6 linked regions of the Homo sapiens genome follow. The protein of the gene in region 4 purifies or fractionates together with the protein of the main gene of each other region. This does not show direct contact. Each region holds a gene or a part of one and is shown on either strand. Other genes may lie near its edges.

What was found.
Region 1: the proteins of SH3BP5L (region 4) and THG1L purify together in Homo sapiens (affinity purification with mass spectrometry; 2 studies listed by BioGRID and IntAct, with this or other methods). This does not show direct contact.
Region 2: the proteins of SH3BP5L (region 4) and MIPOL1 purify together in Homo sapiens (affinity purification with mass spectrometry; 2 studies listed by BioGRID and IntAct, with this or other methods). This does not show direct contact.
Region 3: the proteins of SH3BP5L (region 4) and BICD1 purify together in Homo sapiens (affinity purification with mass spectrometry; 2 studies listed by BioGRID and IntAct, with this or other methods). This does not show direct contact.
Region 5: the proteins of SH3BP5L (region 4) and WTAP purify together in Homo sapiens (affinity purification with mass spectrometry; 2 studies listed by BioGRID and IntAct, with this or other methods). This does not show direct contact.
Region 6: the proteins of SH3BP5L (region 4) and RNF146 purify together in Homo sapiens (affinity purification with western blotting, with the first as the bait; one study listed by BioGRID). This does not show direct contact.

The regions. Positions count from the first base shown.
Region 1 is NC_000005.10:157,732,852-157,737,919, forward strand, and holds part of THG1L (probable tRNA(His) guanylyltransferase), read left to right. Parts: intron 1-16; coding exon 17-193; intron 194-1,724; coding exon 1,725-1,894; intron 1,895-2,994; coding exon 2,995-3,083; intron 3,084-5,035; coding exon 5,036-5,068. UniProt on the Homo sapiens protein: Adds a GMP to the 5'-end of tRNA(His) after transcription and RNase P cleavage. This step is essential for proper recognition of the tRNA and for the fidelity of protein synthesis.
Region 2 is NC_000014.9:37,497,712-37,502,779, forward strand, and holds part of MIPOL1 (mirror-image polydactyly gene 1 protein), read left to right. Parts: intron 1-2,196; coding exon 2,197-2,427; intron 2,428-5,068.
Region 3 is NC_000012.12:32,112,658-32,117,725, forward strand, and holds part of BICD1 (protein bicaudal D homolog 1), read left to right. Parts: intron 1-5,068. UniProt on the Homo sapiens protein: Regulates coat complex coatomer protein I (COPI)-independent Golgi-endoplasmic reticulum transport by recruiting the dynein-dynactin motor complex.
Region 4 is NC_000001.11:248,818,585-248,823,652, reverse strand, and holds part of SH3BP5L (SH3 domain-binding protein 5-like), read left to right. Parts: intron 1-2,391; exon of another isoform or gene 2,392-3,250; intron 3,251-5,068. UniProt on the Homo sapiens protein: Functions as a guanine nucleotide exchange factor (GEF) for RAB11A.
Region 5 is NC_000006.12:159,729,881-159,734,948, forward strand, and holds part of WTAP (pre-mRNA-splicing regulator WTAP), read left to right. Parts: intron 1-1,004; exon of another isoform or gene 1,005-1,085; intron 1,086-2,516; exon of another isoform or gene 2,517-2,551; intron 2,552-5,068. UniProt on the Homo sapiens protein: Associated component of the WMM complex, a complex that mediates N6-methyladenosine (m6A) methylation of RNAs, a modification that plays a role in the efficiency of mRNA splicing and RNA processing.
Region 6 is NC_000006.12:127,272,542-127,277,609, reverse strand, and holds part of RNF146 (E3 ubiquitin-protein ligase RNF146), read right to left. Parts: intron 1-5,068. UniProt on the Homo sapiens protein: E3 ubiquitin-protein ligase that specifically binds poly-ADP-ribosylated (PARsylated) proteins and mediates their ubiquitination and subsequent degradation. May regulate many important biological processes, such as cell survival and DNA damage response.

The sequences.
Region 1 (5,068 bases), on a different chromosome or scaffold from region 4:
TTTTTCCCCTGTGAAGGTTTGCTGAGAAGCACAACTTTGCAAAACCCAATGACAGCCGTGCTCTCCAGCTGATGACCAAATGTGCGCAGACTGTGATGGAAGAACTAGAGGATATTGTGATCGCGTATGGACAGAGTGATGAGTACAGCTTTGTGTTCAAGCGGAAAACCAATTGGTTTAAAAGAAGAGCCAGGTAATTCCATGACCTAACTCCTTTCTTCAGAATATTTCCTCCCAGCATCTGGTTTTCTGTTTATCTTAATCGCAGACTTACAGGCTACAGATGATGTCTGCAGTATTTGTAACTGCAGAGTACATGTATATTTCCTGTTTAGATTGTTGTACTTCCATCTGATAGCCGAGCATTCTGTGTGCCTCTTTTATCTGATTCTTTCCCCACATGCCCCATAAGATTGGTTTCTAGACTGACCTGGCATTGAACATTAAGATTAGAAACAGAGACTATAAGAATGTAATATTAACAATTCATAGGTTGGCTTTAGCCAGTGATAGTCTCTACGTGCATTGCATTACACTGTTCCTCAAGACAGATCTCATTATAAAATACACAAATCTGATATTTGATTTGGCAGTATTTTGAAACGCTGTATGGGAAACAAATCATATAATGAATTGGTTTTTTCTTTCTTTCTTTTTTTAATAGAGGTGGGGTCTCTCTGTGTTGCCCAGGCTGGTCTCAAACTCCTGGCCTCAAGCAGTTCTCCTGTCTTGGCCTCTCGAAGTGCTAGGATTACAGACATGAGCCACCACGCCCAGCCTGAATTGGCATTTTTTTTACAACAATGGTTTCTCTCCTTTCATGACTGTAAACACAAACAGATCAGGCGTGGTGGCTCACGCCTGTAATCCCAACACTTTGAGAGGGTAAGGGAGAGGATTACTTGAGCCCAGAGGTTTGAGACCAGCCTGGGCAAGATGGTGAGACCTCATCTCTACAAAAAATTTAAAAATTAGCCGGGCTCAGTGGCATGTGCCTATAGTCACAGCTACTAAGGAGGTTGAGGCAGGAGGATCCATTGAGCCAAGGAATTTGAGGCAGCAGTGAGCTATGATTGTGCCAATCCACCCCAGCCTGAGGGACAGAGAGATTCCATCTTTTAAAAAATAAAATAAAATTTAAAAATACCCCTTGAATCATAAATTCGTATCACATCCTGTAGGGAAAGGTTTAGTATCAGTAGGTTACTTAATAGAACTGGAAGGAGAGGCAGGCTGCATTTAAAATACATAACTGGCCAGGTGTGATGACTCACGCCTGTAATCCCAGCACTTTGGGAGGCTGAGGCAGGCAGATGACTTGAGGTCAGAAGTTTGAGACTAGCCTGGCCAACATGGTGAAACCCCATCTCTACTGAAAATACAAAAATTAGCTGGGCGTAGTGGCCTGCACCTGTAATCCCAGCTACTCGGGAGTCTGAGGCAGGAGAATCACTTGAACCCAGGAGGCAGAAGTTGCAGTGAGCCAAGATGGTGCCATTGCACTCCAGCCCAGGCAACAGAGCAAGACTCTGTCCTAAAAAAAGAAAAAAAAATACAGAACCAAGGTATTAAAATAGTGTTTCTTAGCCAAATGCATTTTATCTCCTGGCTTTCTGGGCAGTTTGTGTACTCTCTGTGGTACCCACAGGTCTTATCATGGTGTTGAACTAATTCCGTGTATTTTTCTTTTTCTTACTCCACCCAATGTGCGTTACATTTTCAAGTAAGTTCATGACTCACGTGGCCTCCCAGTTTGCCTCCAGCTATGTGTTTTATTGGCGGGATTACTTTGAGGACCAGCCCCTTCTGTATCCCCCAGGCTTTGACGGAAGAGTCGTGGTGTATCCCAGCAACCAGACTTTAAAGGACTACCTCAGCTGGCGACAAGCAGATTGTGAGTGGCACCAAATAAACACATGTAGTTAAACCACCAATTCCATGTCTTACAGGTGTTGATCTGATACAGGATTGGCTCACATATACTTTGTTTCAACATATACGTTGTACAGAATGCAGTATTTAAATATTTTTTCAATTAGTTAAAAGTATTTGAAAAATTAAATTTTACGTAAAAACTCCTTATCTCTATTTTTTTTTTTTTTTAAGACAGAGTTTCGCTCTTGTTGCCCAGGCTGGAATGCAGTGGTGTCATCTTGGCTCACTGCAACCTCCACCTCCTGGGTTCATGGGATTCTTCTGCCTCAGCCTCCCGAGTAGCTGGGATTACAGGCATGTGCCACCACGCCCGGCTGATTCTGTATTTTTTAGTAGAAATGGGGTTTCTCCATGTTGGTCAGGCTGGTCTTGAACTCCTGACCTCAGGTGATCCACCCGCCTTGGCCTCCCAAAGTGCTGGGATTATAGGCGTGAGCCACCACGCCCAGCCGCCTTATCTCTATTTTTTAAAAAAATCAGATGTGGCAATACTGGATCTGCATTCTTACTTAGTACTAGACAAAGCCTGTTCAGTGGCAGCTACCTTTACACACACACACACACACAAATGCCAGTGTGCCATAGTCTCTGCCATTCCCTGTTGTTCCTCTGGGGTCACCCACTGCTTTACACATTTATGTTCATGCTGGCCTCAGTGGGTATTTGAATTGTGACCCTTGCCTTATGTGACTGTGATGATGTTTGTGAGGCTTTTACTTGCTTGTTCTAGTTTGAATTTTCCAGAAGAACTGGAAAAGAGATTGAAATAATATAAATCAAATAACTTCTAAAGTATTCCTAGGATTAACACACAAGTTAACAGATTTGTATAATGTGTAACTGAAATGACCAAATAAAACTGTTGTTAGGGATGAAGTTTTTTCCCTACTGCTCCTTCCCTCCATGTTCCGTGTGTAGGACTTCGGTCAAGTCACTGAATGTCTCTGAGATCTCTTTACTATGAAAGAGGAGAGGGTCAGGGCTCTAGTATTCCTTGAAGAATGAATATTCAATAAAGATTTTATGTATATAAACATTACTATTTTGTTCTCCTCACAGGTCACATCAATAATCTTTATAATACAGTTTTCTGGGCACTTATACAACAATCTGGACTAACACCAGTACAAGCCCAAGGGAGATTACAGGTATAAAGATCTTACTACATTAATACTTAACTGGGGACAGTTCGCTGTAGGCTCTCCCATAACTTTTTTTTTGTTAAATTTACATTTCTTTCTTTTAAGATCCCTGTACAGCTTTGTTTTGAAAGGATATAAAAATCATAATAGGAGCAGCTCTGCTGCCTGCTTGGTCTGTAATCCTGGATGAATTACTGCTTCTCCCTGAGCCTTTGTGTTCTTAGTGGAAAATGGAATTGACGGCACTGGCTCTGCATTCCCACGTGCTAACACTTGCCTGAAGCCGTGTATGACTGTGTATGACTGCCGTCTTCAGCACTGACTTTTTTTTTTTTTTTTGAGACACAGTTTCACTCTGTTGCCCAGGCTGCAGTACAGTGGTGTGATCTCAGCTGATTGCAACCTCCACCTCCTGTGCTCAAGCGATTCTCGTGCCTCAGCCTCCCAAGTAGCTGGGATTACAGGTGCATGCCACCACACCCAGCTAATTTTTGTATTTTTAGTAGAGACAGGGTTTCACCCCGTTGGCCAGGCTGGTCTTGAACTCCTGACCTGAAGTGATCTGCCTGCCTGGGCCTCCCAGAGTGCTGGGATTACAGGCGTGAGCCAGTGAGCCACCACACCTGGCCAGCACTGAATTTTTGTCAGTCCCACCACGCCTCTTCCCTCATTGCCATTTTCCCTGCTGGGCACCTGTAGTTTCTTGGGTTTATGACCTCTGTGTATAGGAAGAGTTCGTGCTGAGTTTGTTACTTTCATAAATGTCATAATAACTACTCACATCATGCTTCTGTGTAATTTTATCCTTTCTGCCTCAGTTCTTTATAGGTAAAATGTAGAAAATAGTAGTTTCTACCTCATAGGTTTATGGTGAGAATTAAATGGCATGATGCACGTAAAACACAGAATCGTATGAAGCACATTGTAAGTGCTTAATAAATACTGGTTTTTGTTATAACAGTGCTACTTGTAGGATGACTAACTGTGAAGTGAGGTAATGTGTTGTAACAGATCTTTTATTTGTATTTTATTTTATCTATTTATTTATTTTTTGAGATGGGTTCTTGCTATTTTCCCCAGGCTGGTCTTGAACTCCTGGGCTCCAGCAGTCCGCCCACCTCAGCCTCCCAAGTAGCTGGGATTACAGGTGCATGCCACTGTGCCCAGCTGTAACAGTTACTAATACAATGCCTGGTACATTATGTTTGCTCAATAAATGGTTGTCATTTTTAATAATAGTAATGATAGAGATTTTTATATAGCAATAATAGGAAAACTGGGGCCTGGTGTGGTGGTTCACGCATGTAATCCCAGCACTCTGAGGAGGCCAAGGTAGGTGGATCACCTGACGTCAGGAGTTCAAGACCAGCCTGGCCAACATGGTGAGACCGCTTCTCTACAAAAATTAGCTGGGTGTGCTGGCACACACCTGTAATCCCAGCGACTCAGGAGGCTGAGGCATGAGAATCGCTTGAACCTGGGAGGTGGCAGTTGCAGTGAGCTGAGATTGCACCACTGCACTCCAACCTGGGCAACAGAGTGAGACTTTGTCTAAAAAAAAAAAAGGCATACTGGTAGGTATATCCAGGTTTGGAAGAGTCAAGTTCAGATTTCAATTCTTCGTAGAAGAATAAGGACAACCTTTTAACCTTGGGGAATTTATATAACCTTTCTAAGTTTTACTGGACCAAATACATAATATGTATTCAGTTAGTATTAATTCTCCCCACTCCCTTTCAGTCTTGACTTGTGAAGCCAGTGTTTGGTATAGGAGAGAATTTTATCTAAGTAAGATCATAATTGCCCTTAAGATGAAAATTTACTAATAACTATAAGATGTTTGATAAAATCCTTCCACTTCTTGATTGTGGAAATTTAGGTTGTGGGTCGAATGGATAGTAGCACTAGGGGAGAAAGAAGACATGCAGAGCTTTTAATATCTATTTTTATTTTCTCAGGGAACTCTTGCAGCAGACAAGAATGAGATTTTG
Region 2 (5,068 bases), on a different chromosome or scaffold from region 4:
AAGAGAATGAAACATCACTGCATCCATATTACAATAACTAAAGTTAAAAGCATTTGACAGTGCCATTCTGAGGGAGGATATAAAGCAATTGAAACTCATATTTTGCTGATGGGAGTACAAATTGGTACAACTAATTTGGAAGACTATTAGCAGCATCTAAATCTAAATCAGCATCTATTATCATTGTACTAAATCTGAAAATAATGCATACCCTTTGGAGAAATTCTACTTTACACATGAATACCTAGGTCCATCAAAAGACATGTACAGGAATATCCATAGCAACAACTGTGGACAGTTAAATAAGTTACGGCATATGTATATAACAGAATATTTTATAGCAATAAAAAGCAATGAATTATATGCAACAGCAAGGTGAACTTCACTTACCAATTGTTGAGGAAAATAAGCCAGACAAAAAGTTTAAAAATAGGCAATTTACATTTTGATAAAGGTTGGATTAGTACTTACCTTTTGGGGAGGGGAAAAAATGGGAGGGAACACTGGGGGGTCTTCTAGATTTCTGCATTTGTTCTGTATTTTGTTCTTCACATTTTTTCAAGCTGAATACTTTGTATATATGCACTTTGTGTAATTTAAAACGTAATTAACAATTAAAATATAACTAATGTTTTAAATATAAAGAACATAAACAAGTACCTTTTTTAAGGTTTAGCTTTTAGTTTGTTTCTTCTTTTCTTTCTTTCTTTCTTGCATCTTTCATGGAGATAAAGAGGGTGAGCTGAAGAAAATTGGAACTTGGAACAGACAAGAATGCAGAAAGTGAGAGGACACAGAAAAAATAGTAAAATGGGCAAGAGACAGCCTTTAAGCATATGGGTTGGTAGAAAAATCTGAGAAGAAATGAAGTAGGGATAGTTAGATTAATAACAATGTGCAAACCATGAAAAAAGGTATTTTTTGCACTCTACAAATGTGGCACTACACACTATTCTAATTTTCTGTGTAGTAACCAGTTGACCAGCGCTTAGTAACAGTCCGTATTCTTAGGGGTTTGAATCCTGAAGTGGTTTCATTTGGTATGCTGACTGTCCTTGTTTCATATCCATCCTAGTTCTATGGGACGCCTTCTCCAAAATAAGCATACTGTAAAGGCTTATAGATAACTTAAACTAAAAGAGGAAATTTATAATTACTTTGAACAGTTTTAAAGAAAGTATCAGGCTAGATATTAGGACAATGCCAAAGTTCACTAACTAGCTTTTTGCAGGTTTAATAATGATATTGCTTTCCTTCCCATTATCAATCTATATTATATAGTTAAGTTGTTTTACTTCAAATGTCTCCAATCGACATTTCCTTTGTATGCATATACTGAAATGATATTTAATAAAAAAGAACATCTCCTGTGTGGAGTTTAAATTTCTCTTATTAAATATTTATATTTTCAAAATGTCTTTATTTAATTGAGTGAGGTGCTTGGTGCCATTTCAAAATAACCTCAGGTGGTAGGTGTAATGACATATCAAAGATTTGACCTTTAGCATTTTAGGATTCTATTTGTCTGCATTTTCTTCTGCATTCATTTAGTCTTAATTTATATGCTATTTCTCTGTATGACTTAATGAGTAGATGTATTCGTTAAGAGATTCATTAGCCAAAAAAAAATATACACATGTATATATGAATACATTTTATTTCTGTGCAATCTGACTAGTGATTTTAAATTCATTTATATCTCAACTGTGACAAGTAGAAGATCAAGTAGAAAATGCTATGTAGAAGGCTGGTCAGTGTTTGCATAAACCTCATCCATTCTCATTAAGTGCTTGGCAGAATAGACCCTCGATCTCCTAAACCAATGCCCATTCTCTTCTCACTTCTTTCAGCTTATTACATTCTTTTATTTGCCTAGAGATACTTTATTTTCCAGTTCTCTGCTATTCCTTTTAAAGAAAATTGAATGTAATATTTACACTGATATAATTAAATTAACATCTTGCAGCATCTTTTTGTATGCTTTGGTAGCATAATCATTTGTCTGGGTAGCTTTCAGCCTAGAAGCAGAGAAATTATCAATTATAATGTTGTGACATAAAAATTATTTTCATTTGCTCATTTAAGTATTTATTGATTTTTAGAACTAGAGATTCTAAATGGAGGTTTTTGTTAAATAGATCATAGATCACTCAGTTTACATTACTTATCTTTAAATTTTTTTTAATATTTTCTCAGTTTACACAAATCTTTATCTCAAGAAGAAAATCTGAAGGATCAGTTTAACTATACCCTTAGTACATATGAAGAAGCTTTAAAAAACAGAGAGAACATTGTTTCCATCACTCAACAACAAAATGAGGAACTGGCTACTCAACTGCAACAAGCTCTGACAGAGCGAGCAAATATGGAATTACAACTTCAACATGCCAGAGAGGCCTCCCAAGTGGCCAATGAAAAAGTTCAAAAGTAAGTTAAATGATCTTGTAATAATACTTCAAACACATGAAACAAAACAAAACACTTTCTTTTGGGAACTAAACAATATGTAGTTATTGATCATGTTAATAGTTTAGAACAAAAGTAGAATTAACCCAGTGAACTTTTTTAGATTGGATACCATATGCCATATTTGGGGTCAAAAAAGTCATTTTCTTGGGAACCATTGTTACCCTGTAGGGCAAACCATTTTTATTTAATAACTGATCATCAGTTCATGGAGGCCATACTATTTAAATCATTTCACAGTCACAAGTTAATAGGCAAAGTTATTAGCAAGGGGAAGAGGCAGTCAAGTTACCACCTGAACTAATTTAGCTTTACAATAATCCTGCTTGAGTTGAGATCATCTGTGACATTGCAACCTGAGACTTGTAGGTGCATAAAAACCAGTAGGGTGAAATTAATTTTCTTGTGTTGTTCTTCTGAAGTATTCAATACTGCTTTTCACAGTGCATAATTATATATGTTTATTTTGAATGATCTTTGCATTTTTATTAGAATTTAAATAAAGCTGCATAATCTGTCAGTCCTTTTGACAGCTAGCAAAATGTTAACAAACAGCTTACCAGGCAAAGAAGTCACTTGTTAATTTAATGGACTTGAACATTGTAGCAGAATTTTCTGAGACACCTTTAATGTAATAGAACCACTGTAATAGAATACATAGAACACATGTAATAGAATATATTTTAACCTTCTTTATGTATTGTTAACAGCACTACAGCATTCACATATCTAGTCACCTTCAATTTCAAAGATATACCTTTTTCCTTAACAATTTTTATGTCAGTTTTACACTGTGAAGCAGTGCTCACATCAAGGTTTCTTACTTCCCACTACTTCTTATTTGAAAATGTCATCTTGACCATTTCCTCAATATCCCTGAAGTTATATTTTGATTAATAGCCAAAGTTATGTAAGTCAGTAGTTTTAAATTAGACCATTTTAAAACAGTTTAGAAATTGTGCATTTTAATCTTTACTAGCCATGTACCTTGAAACTTTTGATTTATGTAGGTATTATATATATTTGTAAGTTTAAAGATGGGGTTTATATTCAGTCAGAAACTATATGCAGTTATTCACAATGTACGTTAATATTCTAAGAACACTATGATGTATAGGTAGATCTCATTTCATTATAAATCACAATCAGTAACTTTTGACAGGATCTGATTTGGCTCTGTTTGCTTAAAGTCTACAAATACATACAAATTTCAAATTTTTCTTTATATATAATCCATTAATTTCTATACATGACCAAAATTCCCTAAAACAGTGGTTCCCACAGACCAATTCTATTTTCAAAAAATCTTCGGATGTGTTATCAACCTTTTATTTTTTAGATCTCATCAACTATCATCATCATTTCATTTAAAAAAACAATTTTTATACACCAAGAAGTAGAAATAATATCATCTCAGATAATGTTTTAAATTAAATAACTTTACTGAATGGCCAAGATAACCAAATAGGAACAGCTCTAGTCTGCAGCTCCCAGTGTTGATCGACACAGAAGATGGGTGATTTCTGTATTTCCACCTGAGATACCTGGTTCATCTCGTTGGGACTGGTTGGACAGTGCATGCAGCCCACCGAGGGTGAGCCAAAGCAGGGCAGGGTGTCACCTCACCTGGGAAGCACAAGGTGTCGGGGGATTTCTTTTTCCTAGCCAAGGGAAGCCGTGACAGACTGTACCTGGAAAATCGGTACACTCCCACCCAAATACTGTGCTTTTCCCACAGTCTTACCAACCTGCAGACCAGGAGATTCTCTCTCATGCCTGGCTTGGTGGGTCCCACGCCCATGGAGCATGGCTCACTGCTAGCATGGCAGTCTGAGATCCACCTGTGAGGCTGCAGCCTGGCAGGGGGAGGGGCGTCTGCCATTGCTGAGGCTTGAAGGTAAACAGAGTGGCTGGGCAGCTCAAACTGGGTGGAGCCCACCGCAGCTCAGCAAGGCCTACTGCCTCTATGGACTCCATCTCTGAGGGCAGGACATAGCTGAACAAAAGGCAGCAGACAACTTCTGCAGACTTAAACGTCCCTGTCTGACAGCTCTGAAGAGGGAAGTGGTTATCTCAGCATGGCATTTGAGCTCTGAGAAGGGACAGACTGCCTCCTCAAGTGGGTCCCTGACACCCCTGTAGTCTAACTGGGAGACACCTCCCAGTAGGGGCCGACAGACACCTCATACAAGCGAGTGCCCCTCTAGGACGAAGCTTCCAGAGGAAGGATCAGGCAGCAATATTTGCTCTTCTGCAATATGTGCAGTTCTACAGCCTCTGCTGGTGATACCCAGGCAAACAGGGTTTGGGTGGACCTCCAGCAAACTCCAACAGACCTGCAGCTGAGGGACCAGAGTGTTAGAATAAAAACTAACAAACAGAAAGGAATAGCATCAACATCAGCAAAAAGCACATCCACACCAAAACCTCATCTGTAGGTCACCAACATCAAAGACCAAAGGTAGATAAAACCATGAAGATGGGAAGAAACCAGAGCAGAAAATCTGAAAATTCTAAAAACCAGAGCACCTCTTCTGTGCCAAAGGCTCACAGCTCCTCACCAGCAATGGAACAAAGCTAGATGCAGAATGACTTTGATGAG
Region 3 (5,068 bases), on a different chromosome or scaffold from region 4:
TCATTACGCTAAAGGAGAATGCACGTAAAGTCAAGTGGCAGGAGATGCAATTGTGAAAGGGCCATGGCCACATTTTGTCTTGGGGATGTGGAGCCATTGAAAATAAATGAAACAGTCACTGTGTTTAATCTCACCAGTCTTCAAAACAATTCAGAGGGCTTACTGCTCATTTTTACTGATAAGAAGATAATAAAAATAATAAAGCATTGACTTAGGTACAAGGCTCCATTTAGAACTAGGTTCTTTACAAGCCTCACCTCTAATTCATGCAGCAATCCTTACTCAAGGTAGGTGTTTCTTGCATTATACAGAAGAGGAAACTGGGTCTTAGAGAGGTTTAGGTCTCTTCCCAGGGCCACAAAACTAAACGATGAAACTTGGAAGAAGCCCACTTTTTTTTCACTGCATCATACTACCTTGAATATGAAATATCTCTGCCAAGTCTACAAGTGCAGTATAGAAGGTTATGGTGATGGTCATAGTGGGTGGATTGAGGCTGTGTGGTGGGACAGACAGTGGCAGTAGGGATCGTGAGGAGGGGGCACGTCTAAGAGCTATTTGGGAGGTAGGGTGGAACAGGCATTGGATGTTACTATATGTGGAAAGTGAGGAAGACAGTGGAGCTGAGAATCTTCTCAGGCTGGATAGGAGGTGGTTCTATTTACAAAGGAAGGTATTATGGGGCAGAGCAGTTTTAGAGGGTGAAATTGATGCTCAAGTTACATGAGTTTCTGTTGTTTTTGACACAGGGTTTCTCTCTGTCACCCAGGCTGGAGTGCAGTGGTGCTGTTACAGCTCACCGCAACCTTAACTAACCATCCTGGCTCAAGTGATCCTCCCATCTCAGCCTCCCAAGGAGCTGGGAATACAGACCCATGCCACCATGCCTGGCTAATTTTTTTTTGAGACTGAGTCTCCCTCTGTTTCCCCAGCTGGAGTGCAGTGGCATGATCTCAGCCCACTGCAACCTTTGCCTCCTGGGTTCAAGTGATTCTCCTGCCTCAGCCTCCCAAGTAACTGGGACTACAGGAGCATACCACCATGCTTGGGTAATTTTTTTTTTTTTTTTTGAGCTGGAATCTCACTCTATCACCCAGGCTGGAGTGCAGTGGTCTGATCTCAGCTCACTGCAACCTCCACCTCCCAGGTTCAAGCGATTCTCCTGCCTCAGCCTCCTGAATAGGTGGGACTACAGGTGCCTGCCACCATGCCTGAATAATTTTTTTTTTTCCAAGACAGAATCTCGCTCTGTCGCCTAGGCTGGAGTGCAGTGGCGCAATCTCGGCTTACTGCAACCTCTGCCTCCCGGGTTCAAGTGATTCTCCTGCGTCAGCCACCTGTAGATGGGATTATAGGCGCGCGCCACCACGCCTGGCTAGTTTTTGTATTTTTTTTAGTAGAGACAGGGTTTCACCATGTTGGCCAGAGTGGTCTTGATCTTCTGACCTCGTGATCCACCCACCTTGGCCTCCGAAAGTGCTGGGATTATAGGCATGAGCCACCGCGCCCAGCCTAATTTTTGTACTTTTAGTAGAGAGAAGATTTCAAACATGTTGCCCAGGCTGGTCTGAAATTCCTGAGCTCGAGCGATCTGCCTGCCTTGCCCTCGTAAAGTGTGGAGATTACAGGCATGAGCCATTGTGCCCAGCCACATAAGTCCTTTTAATTCATGTTTTCTTTGCTGGGGAAGCGTACATTGCATGATGGATTCAGATCCTCAACTTTCTTTTTTTTCTTTTTTTGAGATGGGGTCTCATTTTGTCACCTAGGCTGGAGTACAGTGGTGTGATCGTGGCTTACTGCAGCCTTGACCTCCTGGGCTCAAGCAATCCTCATGCCTCAGCCCCCAAGTAGCTGGGACTACAGGTGCACACCGCCATGCCTGACTAATTTTTGTATTTTTTTTGTAGACACAGGGTTTTGCCATGTAAGCCAGGTTGGTCTAGAACTCTTGAGCTAAGGACAGTCCGCCTGTTTTGGCCTCCCAAAGTGCTAGGATTACAGGCTAACTTTCAATTTAATAAAAAAAATTAATTTGTGCAATTGGTTGTTATTTTATAGAAGCCTAATTTCTAGAATATGGGATATAAACAATTTAATAATGTTTTCACCAGTTAGTTTGATTGCTTTCTAAATTAGGAAAAATGAAAACAAATAAACGATGGGCAAAAAAGCTGACTGGGGACAGTAAGGTCTAAGAAGGCAGCCTAAGTGGAAAATTAGCCCTTACTCACCATTTAGGGTTATGGGGGCTGGGAGCAACAGTCCTCACTGCTCACTGACTAATCTTTATCAATCTTATTTAATCTTTATTGAAGATGCATTAGCATTTTTAATTTAAGTGGGTTTTTTTCCTCTTTTCTTTTGGTGGGGGGTGTGGGCGGCGGGGGAGTTTCAATATGTTGACCAGGCTGGTCTTGAACTCCTGGCCTCAAGCGATTCTCCCTCCTCAGCCTCCCAAAGTGCTGGGATTACAGGCATGAGCCATTGCACCCAGCCTTTTCTATTTTTCATTTCAAGAGTTTGCTTTTTAAGAATTAAAATTGTGTAATTATGACAGTTTTTATTGCAGTACTCCAAGCTAGAGAAAAGCATATATAAATTAATAGTTTTCCCTTCTTCTCCCACAGTTCTGTCTCTGTTGTTAACACTTTGCTGAGTATTCTTCTGTACTTGTTTTAAATGTCTTTAAACATATAGGCAGGGTTTTTGTGTGTGTGGTGTTTTTGGTTTTTTTTTTTTTGCTGTTTTTCTTCCTTTGTTTTTATAAAAACAGGATCTTGCAGCCTGGTGTTTTAAATTTAGTAGTATGTCCTTTCAAAAGGCAGGTATTTACGAGACAAAGCTGCATTTTTAAAGCACTGGTGAAGTGTGAAGAAAATGAGACCGATTAGGGAAGAAAACCCGAGAAGCTCAGAGTTTGGGTGACCCTGGGGATGTGGGAAGGTGGTGAAAATGGTACCCTGAGGGTAGCATGGATGGTAAGTGAAAGAGGAAAAGGTGTAGGTTTGCATAAAAGAAACTGATGGAATTTGGATGCCCAATAGCAGACCCAGGGGAATGATACCAGGGGAAAAGATGGACAGTTTTGTGGGTAAATTAGCAGTGATTTTGATTCCTTGTCTTGTTAGCTGCTGATGGAGATACGTGTATCAGCATAATACCTGGCTAGTTTCCATGGCCGGCAAGAGCCAGTCCTGCAGTGTGACCACATCCTGTCCATTCTGGGTCTTGGTGGCAAGCCAGGATGATTCAGGCAGTTGGGCTTTATTACGTTATCCCTTCTTTGCCCTCTGAAAGCTGAGTTTTGAAATAGTTAGGATCTTATACAACATCTCAGATTCAGCATGCTGTGCAGGAGGTGGGGAGAAAAGGGTACAAAAGAGGAAAATGTTCAGTGAAGGTGTTATTACAATGGAGGGGAATATGAAAGTGGAAATTGATACCTTTTCCTCTTGGGATTTAATTAAGTCTATAAAATTAAGGTGTTGCAATACATAATGTCTATGATTTTTTTTTACCAGCTCTAAATCTCTGAGATGGCTGTGTTTTAGAGCTGCATGTTCTGCTTATTTACTGCCTGTCCTTTACATTTCAAATTCATTCAATATTTTTCCAAAGTACAGAATAGTTTTGCCTAGTTGCAGTAATTTTCACCTAGACTTCAGGGATCTTCCATCAACTCTTTTATGTATTTTTTCTCCTTTGTTTTTCCACTCTGGTCACTCAGTTCTAGCCAAGATAGTCCACCTTATTTTAGCACTTGTACTATGTCTCTGTCTCTGTCTGTCTGTCTGTCTGTCTGTCTCTCTCTCTCTCTCTCTCTCTCTCTCTTTCTCTCTCTCTCTCTCTCTATATATATATATATATATGTAATTTTGAGATGGAGTCTCACTCTGTCGCTCTGACTGAAGTACAGTGGTGCGATTACAGCCCACTGCAGCCTTGACCTCACAGGTTCAAGTAATCCTCCCACCTCAGCCTCCAGAGTAGCTGGGACCACAGGTGCACACCACTATGCTGGCTATTTTTTTTTTTTTTAACCTGATTTTGTTTTTACTGGAGGCTCAGGTGGCCCAACTAATTTTTAGAAATTATTATTTGCAGAGATGAGGTTTTGTTATGTTGCTCAGGCTGGTCTTGAACTTCTGGGCTCAAGTGATTCTCCCACCTCAGCCTCCCAAAGTGTTGGGATTGTAGGTGTGAACTACTGTGCCTGGCCTTCTACATTTTTTTTTTAACCATTTCATAGTTCCCTTTTTCTTTGAACACTTGGTCCAAACTCACTTTTCTTCTGGATTCATATTTTCTGATCTCACCTATTATGTTATAGAACTGATATGTTACGTTTGTTTTCATTGATGCGTCTGTACTTGGCTTCAGAGAGCAGAACAAGGCCCTGTGAGTCACTGGGAGCCAGATTTTGGATCAAAATAAATCACTTTCTGACAAGTGTAGTTGTCTAGTAATGGAATGAGGCAGTCTTCTTAGGAAGTAATGAATTCCCTGTCACCAAAAGGGAGAAGCTAGTGAGCCACTTGCTGAGAATACTCTATGGGGAGTTGTCCTTAGGAAGGGGTATATCTAGAATGATCTCTAAGGTTCATTCTTATTCGGATTTCTTTGATTTTTATCATTCCAGGTGTTCCAAATAATTTGATAAGTTTATGTTTTTTATACTTTTCCCACCACCAGAGCAGTGTTTCCAACATGGTTAAATTGTTCTGCTTTAATGTTTGGCATTTCACACTATTTGATGACTGTAAACATTTGGAATGTTTTCACAGTGTCTCAAAACTTTATTTTGATTTATGTTTTGCTTTATTTTCAGAAGAAAACTAATGGGTAATATAAAGCTTTAAGATGAGTGTATCTCTAAATTTGGAGAGCTTTCAGTGAAACTGTACATTTTGAAGCTACGTGGTTGCATTGAGGGAGGTCTACAGCCTCCAGAATCTTCTTTTTCACACACACGGGCACATGTGCATGTGCATGACTTTATATTTTGTCATTTACGCTTAGTCATATATATATATATATACACAAATATATATACACACACACACAC
Region 4 (5,068 bases):
TGTGTGGGTTCCTCTTCTACTGTGTCCATGCTTATAATGGAGCAGTGGTGAGCCATTTGTTTCTGGCATGAGTCAGTAATTTATTTCTGCTCTGCCTGACATTGCATTGAAAACAGCCAATTTTTCTTGCTATTTCTACAGATTTATCATCCTCTGAGGAAATCAGTTGTAGTGAAAAAAGTCTTGGGCTGAGTTTCACGCTACCTCCAACCCCATGATTTATGATTTTTATGGAAGTTTCTTTACGTTTCTGAGCCTCAGTTTCTTCATCTGTAAAGTGAGCAGTTGGTCTAGCTGATTTGCACAACTCATTCTTGCTCTGCTCTGACACAAGTCTACAGTTCTTTCTCAAACTCTTTTTGCTTGTTCCTTGGTGATAGTTTGTAGATAGCACTTTGGGAAAGAGCTGTCTCTCTGTTGCTTGTGGAGGAGGGCTGTGTAATGTGCATTATATGCCTCCCTACAGCCTTCCTTGCCCTGCTCCAGAGAAGGCTTCTGCAGAGGAGAATCCACTGTGGTCTCTTTACTTGGCCTCTACTACTCCTATGTATTTTTCCAGTGTCTGCATAGGCACATGGTAGTAGTAGGAAGAGTCATGCTTGCATTGTGCTGTCTAATAGGGTGGACTAGCTGCATGTGGCTATTTAAACACAATCAATTAAAATTAACATGTAAAAATGCAGTTCCTCGGCCAGGCATGGTGGCTCACACCTGTAATCCCAGCATGTTGGGAGGCCGAGGCAGGTGGATCACCTGAGGTCAGGAGTTTGAGACCAGCCTGGCCAACATGGTGAAAACCCGTCTCTACTAAAAATAAAAAAAGCTAGCCAGGTGTTGTGGCGGGTGCCTGTAATCCCAGCTACTTGGGGGGTTGAGGCAGGAGAATTGCTTGAACCCAGGAGGCGGAGGTTGCAGTGAGCTGAGATCTGCCACTGCACTCTAGCCTGGGTGACAAGAGCGAAACTCCGTCTCAGAAAAAAAAAAAAAAGCAGTTCCTCAATGTTATACTGACAGTGCATAAATAGAATATTCTGTCATCACTGACTCTTCTATCAGATGAGCTCTATGAGAGTTGGAGTACACTGAGGTAGCGTAAGACTTACTTTGCCTCCAGTGAACTTGTGATGTCGCTGGTGCAGGAAAGGTAAAGCAGACCCTCGTCTCTCTTGCTAAACTGCACAACACGTTGTGGAATGTTGTGGGTTGTATAGGGAGGAAAGGTCTAGTAATAGCTTCCCTCATTTGATGACACAGGTGTGGGTACGCCAGTGCTCTGACCTCAGCAGGGAGTCAGTGTCTTCTTGCTGTGTGAGAGAGGCAGCCTGGCTTGAGGGGCACCCTTCACGGAGGAGGCCGGTGGCATTTTGCCCTTCTGTGCTTGGGCTTTCAAGATGAGGAGGAGATTGGGGTGTTTGTCTTTCGAGGTCCCTTTGAGTGTTGACAGTTCACTAGACCATGCACATTGCTCTGATCATGTGTTTCAGTGCTTTAGGTGGGTGTTCATTTCTCTGGATTCTCAGTGCATTTACTGGGTTTCCATCCACCGTCCATAAAAAGCCACCAGGGAGCTTCAAAAATACCCTTACCTGAGCCTTTCCAGACATGTGGATTCTCTTAGTCTGGGTGGGGTGAGAAGGGATTCTGATGTTACAGTCAGAGCCAAATCCACTGGGCCAGGTATATCCCAAAGGTAGAGCGCCTGTTTCGGTATTTTCTGAGGCTCCCGGAAATGGCTGTCCTTCGGATGAGGCCCTGTCTGACCTGGGGCTGGGGCTCCTTTGCAGGCAGGCAGCTCCATGGCCATTTATGGTGGGATTCCTCTGGAAGTTAGAAGGAAGTCAGCTGGTGCCTACCTGGAGCGTGCTGTCCCTCCAGGGAAGGCTGCTGGCTGTGTCTCCTTGTCATGATCTTAGTGGAGTTCTTTTGAGTCCTCCAGGCTCATCCTCAGCTTTCCGAGAGGGTTCCAGTGGAGGGAAGAGGAAAGGAGCGTGGATCTAGGATGGACCTGGGTCTGTTCTGTGACTTTCTCAGCCCCCTCTTAGTGGTTGCATTCTTTCCTCAGATGTGAGTGCTCTCGTTTACCTGCTCCTTTCCAAACTCTCTAGGGTGACTTTGCAACCTCTGTGACCTCATCTAGAAGTATGGGTTTAGCTTTCACAGGACAGTCATCACCCTGGCCCCAGTTACCATTAGTTTGAGTCTTTTGATGGTCTGCACTAGGTGGGGTGGGAGCATCTGCAGCCTGAGTCCCCATGCCTTTGATTCAGTGTCCTGGCATCCTGGGAATCTGACTGCTGTGCCCTGGGAAGGTCACCCTCCCTGCTGGCTGCTGGCTCACTGATGGATGATGCACGTTGATTCAGACTTTGTCCTCCCCAAATTCCGTTTCAGCTGAGTGCCAGGAGTCCCTGGTGAAGCAGGCCAAATGGAATGTGTTGCTGACTGCCCAAAACTGTCCCAGGTCCTCAGTGGATTCCTGCTCAGCCTTTCCCTGGGTGTCGCCTAGGTGGGCTATCCCCCTCCCTCCTGTGGTGACCTTGCCCTCCAGGCTGCTTTGCTCCCCAGGCATCTTCTTGTCCTGTTAGGGAGAGCTTTGTGACTCTGAGGGGACAGATCCCATCAGCAGATGGCTTTCTGTAAATTGCTGGAGGTGCCACTGGGAAGCTAGTTCCCATATAGAAAGATAATGCCCACTCCTGCCACTTGCCAATAGCAACAGCTCTTCTTGTCCTTTTAACAGTAGTAACAACTTATGCTGAGCCATCCAATCCATTGATGATCTTGTCAGGAGCTGGAAGTTGATGACTGGAAGCATTTGAGGCCATGGAATCCAGTGGGGATCCCGTCTTGGACTTTGATTTGCCACATGAACATTGCAGGGTGGCCTTTACCAACTGACCCCCCACAATCAATGTTTGTTGCATTTCCAATCCCTGTCCTTTTCCTACGTGGGCTGTGGTTTTCCTAGATTACAGCACTTCTTTCTTTACTGAGATGTCCTTCCAGTGGTGTCCTCATTCCCAGGAGGGTGGTCACAGTGGAAGGAAAGTGAGATCAAAGGTCGGTCCTGGATCCAGACCCAAGTCTGTCACTAATTTTCCGCCTGGTTGTTTCTCATCTATCAAATGCAAAGTTGCTGAGAAAGAATATTCCAGCAGGAGGTGCTGAAAGAACTGGTCACTCGTCTCCCAGATAGCCTAAAAGCCCCTGTAGGCCTCGTCAAGCCCCAGGAAGCTGGGCCCCCAGGGAGGTAGGTTGCCTTTCAGCTTGACAGACATTGCCTTTTTAGGGCCTGTTGGGGTGATCGTGTCAGTTGCTGGTGATGTCTCTGTTCGGAAGGCACTGTGAAACTTGGAGTTCCATGTGTCTGGTAGTGTTGATGCTGACCCTATGCCTCCTCTGGGGCCCTGAGCTGTGTTGGCTGCCTGTTCTTCCAGAATGGTTGTTATTTTATGGACACTGGGTTGTGGGACACTGTAGATGCATCTACCCAAATACAACAACTTCTAGACCTTCGCCACCCAACACAGGAGCCACATGCCACTGTCTAGGTTGAGATGTGTCACAAGAGTCAAGTGCATACGGATTGTGAAGACTTAGTTTAAAAAAGTAAAAGTATGGATAATAATATTATTTTATGTTGATCACATGTTGAAATATATTTTGTATATATTGGGTTAAATGTATTTTTATAATTTCACTCTTTTTTTAAATTTTTTTACTTTTAAAAAATGTGGCTTCTAGAATTAAAAATTCCATGTGCAGCTCCTGTTACGTTTCTGTTGAATAAGTCTCTTCGAGAAAATTTAGAGCAAGCTTTTCCAACCCGTGGCCTGTGGGCCGCATGCAGCCCAGGATGGCTTTGAACACGGCCCAATGCAAATTTGTAAACTTTTCTTAAAACATTATGAGATTTTTTTTTGTGATTTTTTTTTTTTTTTTTTTTTTTTGAGACTGAGTCTTGCTCCTTCACCCAGGCTGGAGTGCAGTGGCACAATCTCAGACCACTGCAACTTCCGCCTCCCAGATTCAGGTGATTCTCCTGCCTCAGCCGTCCCAGTAGCTGGGACTACAGGTGTGTGCCACCATACCCAGCTATTTTTTTGTATTTTAGTAGAGATGGGCTTTGCATCATGTTGCCCAGGCTGTTCTCAAACTCCTGAGCTCAGGCAATCTTCCCACCTCGGCCTCCTGAAGTGCTAGGATTACAGGTGTGAGCCACTGCGCCTGCCCACGATTTTTTTTTTTTTTTTTAAGCTCATCAGCTGTAGTTAGTGTTAGTGTATTTTATGTGTGGCCCAGGACAGTTCTTCTTCCAGTGTGTCCCAGGGAAGCAAAAAGATTGGACATCCCTAGTTTAGAGCCAGATTTGTGGCCCTCCTTAGGCAGGGTCTACACTGTTGTAGGTAGGTGTGTGCATTTTCATATCCTCATTCCTCGTTCCATTACAGGTTTCTACCTTTGTGTTCTTCCTGTTACTGTAATTAACATGTCAAACCATTTCCTGTATTCTTACCTGCTGACCCAGATCTTTTCAGGATCAAGGCAGGGGATGGGGGGAGGATAGAAGAGGTAGAAGGGACTAAAAGGAAGATTGTGCATGTCAGCCTGACTCCCTCACTGGGTTGCTGAAAGGCCCGAATGAGGTGAGTGGGGGCCAACATCACGGCCATATGAGTGGGAAGTGATTGTGGTGTCACTGCCAAGTGCAAGTCATGGGTCTGGGCAGCAGGCACATGCTGGGCTGGGTCTCTCTGGCCTGTCCAGCCTCCTGTCCAGAGACAGCAGGGGCTGGTGAAGGCAAATCCTATAGCTAGGCACCAGGTATTTCCTGGCACAAGGCCCTTGGCACAGACCAGCACTGCTCCTCAGTAGTGTCCTTAGCTCACCAGGGGCTCTGGGAACTTTTGTGTTTTCTCGGGCAAGGGAGGATGACTTGAGGCCAGTACCCCTCTCAGCTCTCTTCCATTTCATGGAAAGCCCTGGATGGTTCTATTGCTTCTCTCTCCAGTCCTTCCAGGGGCCAGGAAGGCACTCAAACCAGCTTGTCCAGCAACTTTTCCCCAGG
Region 5 (5,068 bases), on a different chromosome or scaffold from region 4:
CTTTATGATGCTAAGAGCCAGGAAGGTACTGGGATCTGGGATGCTAGGCACCTAACCAGTCTAGACTGAACTCCATACTAAGCTGTTTTTCTGTGTTAAGGCATCAAGAGTAGATGGTGGTCCTGATTTTCTGAGATATATTATCTCTGAATTATCTACATAAATAACTGAAACTTTTATGTAATTTTAAAACTAGTCAATCATGTTACCACCCTTTTGAGGGGCACCAAATTTGAGACCCTTACCCCCAATTTATTAATTAATAGCTGTTTTAATCACCTAATAGCTGATCACCTAATGACTAACAGTCATTTTCATCCTGGAAAATGGGAACTAACTTTGACTTTGAAAAGTGCTGTTATTAAATGTGTGATTCATAAGAACTGAACATATTTTCTTTATTATTTTCCTTCAGGATTCAACTTTAATTGACTCCAAATGATGTTATGGTCATTCTGTTTTTCTGATACGAGAATAGATTGTTCTGAGAACCTAGAATATTCATTGCCTTTATGAATCTAGAATTGACTTTAAATTTAGGTTATTGTGTTTGTCATTTGCGCTAAAAAAAAAATTGCCCTGGGGAATACCAAACTTCTCGGTACATTCGTGTGGTGTGAAAGTCAAAATTGCCAATTAGGTTCTATTTTGACCAAATAGTTGAATGTTGTAGACAGTTGTAAATTTTGAACCTGTTCTAATTTGCCTTTTGCCAGATGGCGCATTTAACTTTGTGGCATATCATCGACTTTCAAGGAAAGATTTACTTTTCATCAGATTAAAGTTGAGGAAGGATTTTCTTTCTAAATACTGAGGCTCTGAATTTCCCAAGTTGGATACCCCAGACAGCTAGAGTGATCTTAAAAGTGACTCTGAGAGTTGACTTAGGAAGTGTAGACATTTATCCAAAATCTGTATTTACTCCTGACTTACATTACAAATACAGAGTTTTATTTTTAAAGAAAATTTCAATAAAAAGCACCATTTAATTAAAATCTACTCACCATCAAACTTTTTAAAAAGAACATAAGCCAATGTCAGGAGTTGGAGACCAGCCTGGCCAACATAGTGAAACGCTGTCTCTACTAGAAAAAAAAAAGAAATACAAAAATTAGCTGGGCATGGTGGTGCGTGCCTGTAGTTCCAGCTCCTTGGGAGGCTGAGGCAGTAGAATCGCTTGAACCCGGGAGGCGGAGGTTGCAGTGAGCCCAGATCATGCCCGTGCACTCCAGCCTGGGCAACAGAGAGAGACTACGTCTCAAAAAAAAGAAAAAAAGAAAAGAAATTTCAATAATTGCAGGCTGGGCATGGTGGCTCACAACTGTAGTCCCAGCACTTTTGGAGGCCCAAGCAGGAGGATTCCTGAGCCCAGGAGTTCAAGACCAGCCTGGGCAACATAGCAAGACCTCATCTCTACTACCAAGAAAAAAAAAACAAATTAGCTGGGCGTGGTGGTTCATGCCTGTGATCCCAGCTACAAAGGAGGCTGAGGCAAGAGGATCAGTTGAGCCCAAGAGATGGAGGCTGCAGTGAGCTGTGATCGAGTCACTGCACTCCAGCCTGGGCGACAGAGTGAGACTCTGTCTCAAAAAAAGAGAGGAAAAAAAGAAAATTTAAGTAACTTCTGTTTAGAATCCTAAATATTGGAGATGCCAAAGAATTCTGCAGTAAGTGTTAGAAACAGTCGGGAGGACAGTATGATTATTATCCTCAACCTGTGGATTATCTCTTCAGGTTTTTCAAGAAACACTGAGTCTGTGTTTTTGATGGGGAGAAGAAACTATTAATTAAATGCCCATTTTGTGCCAGTTACCATGCTAAAGATTAATGTCTGTCTTCAGAAATAGCACAGTATTTGGGCCCTGGTTGTGGTAATTCTTTTTGAGATGGGGAAACTGAGGTGCAGAGATTTTGCTACTTTTGTATTTGCAAAGTTGACAACCTGTTTCAGAATACCAAGGTTATCAGAACTTTCTTCATGTGTTTCTCAGTCCTTTTAATGCCCTTTAAAAACAGATTATCATCTCATTTTTTGCTAAGCTTACTGTTAATTTTATTTTAGTGGAATAAGAATATGGATACCTGTCTTTAAGAAGAGAGTAAGCAAGTAAACCTAGGGAAAGTATCAGGTTGTAGAACCACATACCGATGATCCTTGCCAAAATCCTGGCATAGGAATTTGAACCCTGGTGTATGAAAAGTCTGCCCTTTGCATACTCAGGTTTCGCATCCCGTGAATGCTGTATTTTTGATCCGAGTACTGTATTTTTTAATCTGAGTTTGATTGAAAAAAATCCAAATATAAATGGACCCATGCAGCTAAAACCTGGGTTGGTCAAGGACCAACTATAATAACTTTTATAAGCTGGAATTTATATTGAACAGCATCCATGATACTTTAGTATTACAACTAAAGTTGTACATACTGAGTAGGTAGGATGCCTTAGTAACTAGATAAAAGGTATACCACCTAGCCATAGTGATAAATATAGCTGTTTTCAAACTGTCATTCACAGATCTCTACCACAGTACCTGTTACGTGAAGTTCCTGGTTGGTTCTCAAAATTTTATGTTCGTATATACATAGATACAGATACTGATATACCGGTTAAATATGTACAGCTCAAATAGCTAAAATTGTCTTTAAGATTTTTTAAATTAAAAATATTATTGGCCGGGCGCAGTAGCTTACACCTGTAATCCCAACACTTTGGGAGGCCAAAGCAGGTGGATTACCTGAGGTGAGGAGTTCGAGACCAGCCTGGTCAACATGGTGAAACTAAAAATACAAAAATTAGCCGGGCGTGGTGGCAGGCACCTGTAATCTCAGCTACTCTGGAGGCTGAGGCAGGAGAATCGCTTGAATCCAGGCGGTGGAGGTTGCAGTGAGCCGAGATCGCGCCATTGCACTCCAGCCTGGGCAACAGAGACCGGGCGCAGGGGGAGGGGGAGTGTCTCTGTCTGCTTCTTTCTCTCTCTCTCTCTCTCTCTCTGTATATATATATAGTGTGTGTGTGTGTGTGTGTGTGTGTGTGTGTAAAATTGATATTTAGCTCCAGACAAATGGGAAATTACAAGGAAATGCCAGATTTGATATCTGGGTTCTAAGACTTTGCAGCCTAATGCATGTGTCATGCTAAAATAGAAGTAGTTAGACATGTGGAGTTAAATATGGTGATGGTTTCTGAGATGATTAAAATGACTGCCACCAGGTTAAGGTAGTTACAAAGCAGCTTTCTGTAATGGCAGCAGAGATAATAAACTGGGCAACAAGGGAGGAACCAATTTAAAGAAAAAAAGAATAATATACATTTTATATCATAGTAATATGGTTTATGTCTTCATAGGACAGAGTGACTTGCTCAGTGAAACAGACTGTATACAATTAGCTCAGAAACAAATACTGAGGTTTTTATCTGTTTGCTGTATCCCTTGAGAAAGATTAAAGAGGGAAGGCAGGGTGCAGTGGCTCACGCCTGTAATGCCAGCACTTTGGGAGGCCAAGGCAGTTGGATTGCTTGCGCCCAGGAGTTCGAGACCAGCCTGGGCAGCATGGCGAAACCCTGTCTCTACCAAAAAAAATTACAAAAAATTAACTGGGTGTGGTGGCACATGCCTGTAGTCCCAGGTACTCGGGAGGCTGAGGTGGGAGGATCACTTGAGCCTGGGAGGTCAAGATTGCAGTGAGCCATCATCGCACCACTGCACTGTGGTCTAGGTGACAGAGCGAGACTGTCTCAAAAAAAAAAAAAAGCCCAGCACGCTGGCTCATGCCTGTAGTCCCAGCACTTGGGAGGCTGAGGTGGGCAGATCACCTGAGGTCGGGATTTCCAGACCACCCTGACCAACATGGAGAAACCCCGTCTCTACTAAAAATACAAGGAAGTTAGCCGGGCGTGGTGGCGCATGCCTGTAATCCCAGCTACTTGGGAGGCTGAGGCAGGAGAATTGCTTGAACCCAGGAGGCGGAGGTTGCGGTGAGCCGAGATCGCGCCGTTGCACTCCACCCCGGGCAACAAGAGCGAAACTCCATCTCCAAAAAAAAAGATTAAACAGAGAAAGAAGCAAGCCAGTAATCTAAGATCAATTTATGATTTTTCCTCTAAATTCTGCTTTCTTCAACACAATTTACTTAATCTGAAAACCAGGGTTTAATAACAGTATGATTAGAATGTTTCATTTATAAAGTGGAGTTGAGATTGTACGTAGTATAAAACATGCTGTTGGAAGATTATCTCCTTTTGAGGAATCTCAAAATCAAGTGGGAGAAATCAAGTAGTCTTGGTGTGTGTGTGTTTTGTTTGTTTGTTTTAATGAGAGACAGGGTCTTACCACATTGCCCGGGCTCGGTTCAAACTCCTAGGCTCAAGCAGCTCTCCTGCCTCAGCCTCCCAAAGTGCTGGGATTACAAGTGTGAGCCACCACACCAGCCTCAAGTAGCTTTCGAGATGATGCCACAGCACTCCAGCCTGGCAACAGAGTGAGACTCCATCTCAAAAAAAAAAAAAAAAATTCAGTTTAACATACCAAGCTTTTGGTCAAATTTCTAGTAGTTTAGAATTTATAATAAGTATGGGTAATTAAAATAAACCATAAACACTTTAAAGTAAGGGAAGATTCATGAGTATACTATTAGAAATAATAACTAGGGCTGGGCGTGATCCTTCCACAGGTAGTTCTAGCTACTTGGGAGGCTGAGATGAGAGTATGACTTGAGCCCAAGAGTTCAAGACTAGCCTGGGCACTATGGTGGGTCCCCATCTCTTAAGAAAGAAAGAATAGGAAAAACTAAATTAGTATAAGAACTAATTACTTAATTTGTATAAGTTATGAATATGCCAAATGCAATTTAGATGCTTTTTCAAAAGAGCACTGGTACTCAGAACCCTGATTCAATTTTTTAATCCTCATAGAATTTTTATATAAAGATTTTATGTTTGTCAGGTTAGCTCTTCATGTCGTATACTTTTTTTTCCAACCTTGTATTTTAATGTGGTGTTTATGTTTATTACACATTTTTTCTTTGTCTTTTTTTTGTGTGTGGATTTGTAGTTTAATGAATAATACC
Region 6 (5,068 bases), on a different chromosome or scaffold from region 4:
TCAGACTCCAAGTTCTTCAGTTTTGGGACTCGGACTAGCTCTCCTTGCTCCTTGCAGACAGCCTGTTGTGGGACTTTGTGATCGTGTAAGCTAATACTTAATAAACTCATATATATATTCTATTAGTTCTGTCCCCCTAGAGAACACTGCCTAATATACTGACTAAACAAGGTTTCTAAGTAACCTTTTTGTTTTACTCTGACTTTAGATGAAATGGACTCCACTATTTTGACTTTCCTCTCAACCCTTTCACCAACTTCAAGGAGCCTACAACTTCAATGGCATCAAAGAAGGCTATGTTCATTTCCTTGCTGCAGCCTACGCCAAACAGAAAACTGCACATTTTCATACACTCCCTATATATAGGACAGGAGGAGACAATTTACTGCTCCAACATCATTACTTTTTCTTTCAAGTCTCTATCACACTGACTTTAACATACCCCATAATCCCCTAAAACTGCTCTCTCACCACCTGTAAGGGATTAATGTCATCTTTTCACTACTGATCATCCTCTTCATCCTAACTCCTGACATGACTATCAGCCTATTTAAATAGCCTTGAAAATGAACCATCCAACACCTATTGCACAGGTTCTTAAACTTGTCCCAACTTCTATTCATCAGAATCACTGAAATTGCTTGTTAGAAATACATATTCTCAGCCCCTTTCCTTAGAAATTCTAGGCCAGTAGACATAGGTTTAAACCTAGGAATCTCACCCCAGGTGGTACTCATGCTTTAGTCCTTCAAATACAATCTGAGAAACACCATCCTCAATTTTCAGTTCCTTAAATCCTAAATTTGAAGAAATTAATCTACTCTCCAGCAACCAAATATTATAATCACATTTAAAGCTAGTTGTCACCTAAACTGCTGCCTCTCTGAAATCTTAATCCGACTCTCAGATCACAAGCTCTGGTTCTTCCAGCCTACTCATTCCCACACCTGCTCTTCAATTTCATGGGGACCTACCATCTCTTGACCATCTCCTTTCCTTTATCCAGTTCCTGATCTCATTTCCTTTCCTGCCCATTCTGGAACCCAATCTTTTTTACTTCTTAACAGAACCCTTGGCCCCCTCATATCTTTATCTCATATACACACATTTTACAAACCCCCATTTCTGCATAATTCTTACAATATGACATCTCAGGTTTCATGTCTTAACTACTTTGTGTTCATGGAGAAAAAGAGAAAGTCCTTTCTCTCACCACACAGCCCCCTGCTCCCCCACCCCAACCAACCACACCATAAATTCTGTCAACTTTTATTCCTAATCCCTTTGGAATCTATCCTGTACTCTCTACCCATTGCTAGTGCCCTAGTTTAAACCTACATAACTCTCACCTGGACTATTGTTCAGCCTGATTATCTTGTGTCAGTATCACCCTCATTTATTAAGCCTTTGAGTGAGATTCTCTCTCTCTCACTCTCTCACACACACACACATACACTCACTCTACAGTCTGTTTCCCAGGCTAGAATGCTGTGGCATGATCATAGCTCACTAAAACCTCAAACTGCTTGGCTCAAGCGATCCTCCCATCTCAGCCTCCCAAGTAGCTAGGACTGACTGATATATTTAAAAGGCAAAATGGACCAGGTTTCTTCCATATGTGAAGCACAATATTGGGTCCTCAGCCTACACAATAAAGACAAAGCTCCTTAGGACAACATTAAAAGGTTTTAAAGATCTAAACTGTAAATAATTAGTCTCTAGTCTTTTTTATCTTCAACAACCACCCATAGATTAATAATCTAGTTGTATAAAATTACTCATAGTCCTGCAAACCTCCCTTTGTAGCTCTGTATTTCCTCCTGCCTGGTACGATCTATTCCCTTTTACAGCTTATGAATGCCTATTTGTTCTTTAATATATTACACAGAAATGGTTATCTCTACCATTTTCTCTGACTACCTCCAGAAAGTTAACTGTTCTCTCCTCTATGTTTTGTATGTTTTTCTATTACGGAATTTATCACATGCACTAATTTCAATTCATTTGTGAAGTCTGACTCTTCTGTGAAATCATGAATCCCCTGAAGATAGGGAGATTTTTATATCTTTAAATAGCTAGTAAATTGTCAATCAATTTTTGTTGAACTGATATTTTTTGGATGAATGAAAAATCAACTCCTAAAAGTAACTATTGTGAGGAACAGAATATCAAAGGATTAGATTTATTCAAATAACACAACACTTGAGTTCTAATTGTGAACTCAAGCTGGAATCTGTAAGATACATAAAAATATCTAAGTTCTAATCCTTGCTTTATATAACTTAAAATCTAAAGGAGTTCCTACATTTACAAATATAAAATTCAACCCATCTTTGTATCTTTTGGCAAGCAAATCATTTACCCAGCTATTGTTCATTGTCAATGAATTCTCCAAAATGGAGATAAAAATCTAAGCATAAACCAAGATGGGTTTCTGAACAGCCAAAACAGCTTCACAAAGCTCTTTCCCCAATAAAGCTTATGATTCTTCACTAGGATGACCACATAGGTCAGCCCAGCATCTATCCAGTTTGCCCTTGGTCTCCCAACAAGTGTTCCAGTTCAGAAAAATTATACAGACATTCTACCCTTTACCCATCACAAAGGTTTTCGGACCATCACTCAAAAGTCAATTTGCTCTTACTTTACCCACAATTCTTTTGTTTTGTTTTGTTTTAAGAGACAGCGTCTGTTAACCAGGCAGGAGTCCAGTGGTATGACTGCAGGTAACTTAAACCTCAAACTCCTGGCCTCATGTGATGCTCCTACCACAGGCTCCCAAAGTGTTGGGATTACAGGTGAGGGCCACCATGCCCAGCCTTTACCCACAATTCTAACTTGAAGTTTTTTGGTCCACAAAGTCCTGCTGAGTGTTGCTGTTGGTCATTAGCACTGCCTATCCTTCGCTATCTTACAAGTCTTTTAAGATGTACCAATCCATCCTTCTCAGAACCTAATTGATTGAATGGTAAAACCTCTAGTGTGAAGATTCAATTAAAACATTTCTTCTAAAAATTTCGTTCAATCACTATTTGTACTTTAATAATTGAGATGTGTAGAAGGTACCATTTTATTCCTAAGAAATACACAAAAAATGTCCTTGTTTCTAATTCTCCTTATCTCCTGAATGCATTTACACATTATCTGTAACCAATCTAATTTATTCCTCTCTATTCACTTACTTTACTTAGGTCTTATCCATAAATATTTTATCTCTGAAACAAAAGTTGATTCTTAAAGGAATCTAAGTTAACTGAAACAAAGCAGCTTCAAAATAAGTACAAAAAAATCCTCTAAAGAACCCATATTTGAACACCCAAATAAGCTGTGATCTTTCCTATAAAACTATTTCACATAGCTGAAATAAAGCTATAGCCACAAATATTAAAGTAAAAGCTTTGCTACATATCCACTAGAACAAAGGTACTAAAAAAAAATCTGGTTAATTCAAGGAGATGCATTCTCTCATTCTGCTTTCCTTATTTGAAGACTAATGATTAAATTCAAGTAACTTATCAATAGCAAAATTATTTGAAAAAGCCCCTTATAAAGAAAACACACACACACACAAACCCAGGAGCAGAGAACTATTTACTTAATAGTACTGAAATAACAGCAAAGTATCTATGAATAATGACTTTCCATCAATATAAACTTTCTCCTTCAACAGAAAGAACATCCTTGCCCTCATTACACTCCTCTAGTCCAGTTATGTTCAGCAGTAAACAAAAGAATGTATCAGTGACCATAACTCACATTCGAGTATCTTTCTATACATTAATGCCATTTTCAAAAGAACACAGCCAAAGACATATTTATTTAGCCTATTTCTTCAATTTTTTTTTTTCTAATTCTGGCCTGAAGTCATTTCTAGGATTCCTTTAGAAATGGCTTTCTCTAATTTTCAAAATATTGATGATGTCATTTCTTTCTTTAAAGATCTTTGACGATAACCTCATACAGCTGACCTTTCAACAACACAGGTTGGAAATGAACAAGTTGACTTATATACATACAGTTTTTTCAATAAATATGTTGGAAATTTTTTTGGAGATTTGTGACAATTTGAAAAAACTTGCAGATGAATCATGTAGTCTTGAAACATCAAAAAAAGGAAAAGAAAAAATTAGGTATATTATGAATGCATAAAACATATATAGTCTATTTTATCATTTAGTATTATAAAATATAGAGAAATTATAAGAAGTTAAAGTGTATCAAAACTTAGTAAACACAGACACATATGGTGCCACTTGAGGTGGTACAAGAAATTTAAACAAATGTAAAGATGCAGTATGAATCATAGCTGTATAAAATTAATTGTAGTACATACTGTAATAATTTCCTGTTGCTATTATGAATTTCCACTTAAAATGCTGTGGACACTAATCATCTCTGCATGTATTGGAGTAAAATGTAATCTCTTGTTCTTGTGTATTTTTCATCATGTTTAGTACAATACCATAAACCTTGAATAACACCATGGGACCCATGTGAAGTGCCACTAGTGATGCTAGAAGTGCTCCCAAGAAGCCAAGAAGTCATGCCATTACAAGAAGTTAAATTACCTGGTACACACCCTAGATGGGTCTGCAGCTGCAGTTACCCATCATTTCAGACAGACACCTTATAAACAGGTAACATAAACACAGTATCGGTAAATGCAGTACTGTAAATGTATTTTTTCTTCCTTAGGAATTTATTTTCCTTTAGCTTATTGTAAGAATATAGTATGTAATGCATATAACAAACAACGTGTTAACTGACTTTACAGTAGGCTATTAGTAGTTAAATTTTGGGGAAGTCAAAACTTATACTCAGATTTTCAATTGTGCAAGGGGTTGGCACCCTTAACCCCATGTTGCTCAAGGGTCAATTGTACTGCCCTCTTATTGTCTTTGAGCATTCTTTTATTTCACCTCTCATTATGCATTATCTTTCAAAAATACATTTGCGTAGAACAACACAACCAGGTTCTTCTTGGCTGAGATTTAGCCATCTTATGCAACCAATAAAAGTGACTCCAGATAAAAGCAGACAAAAAACTTAACAGATGTAAACAGGAATC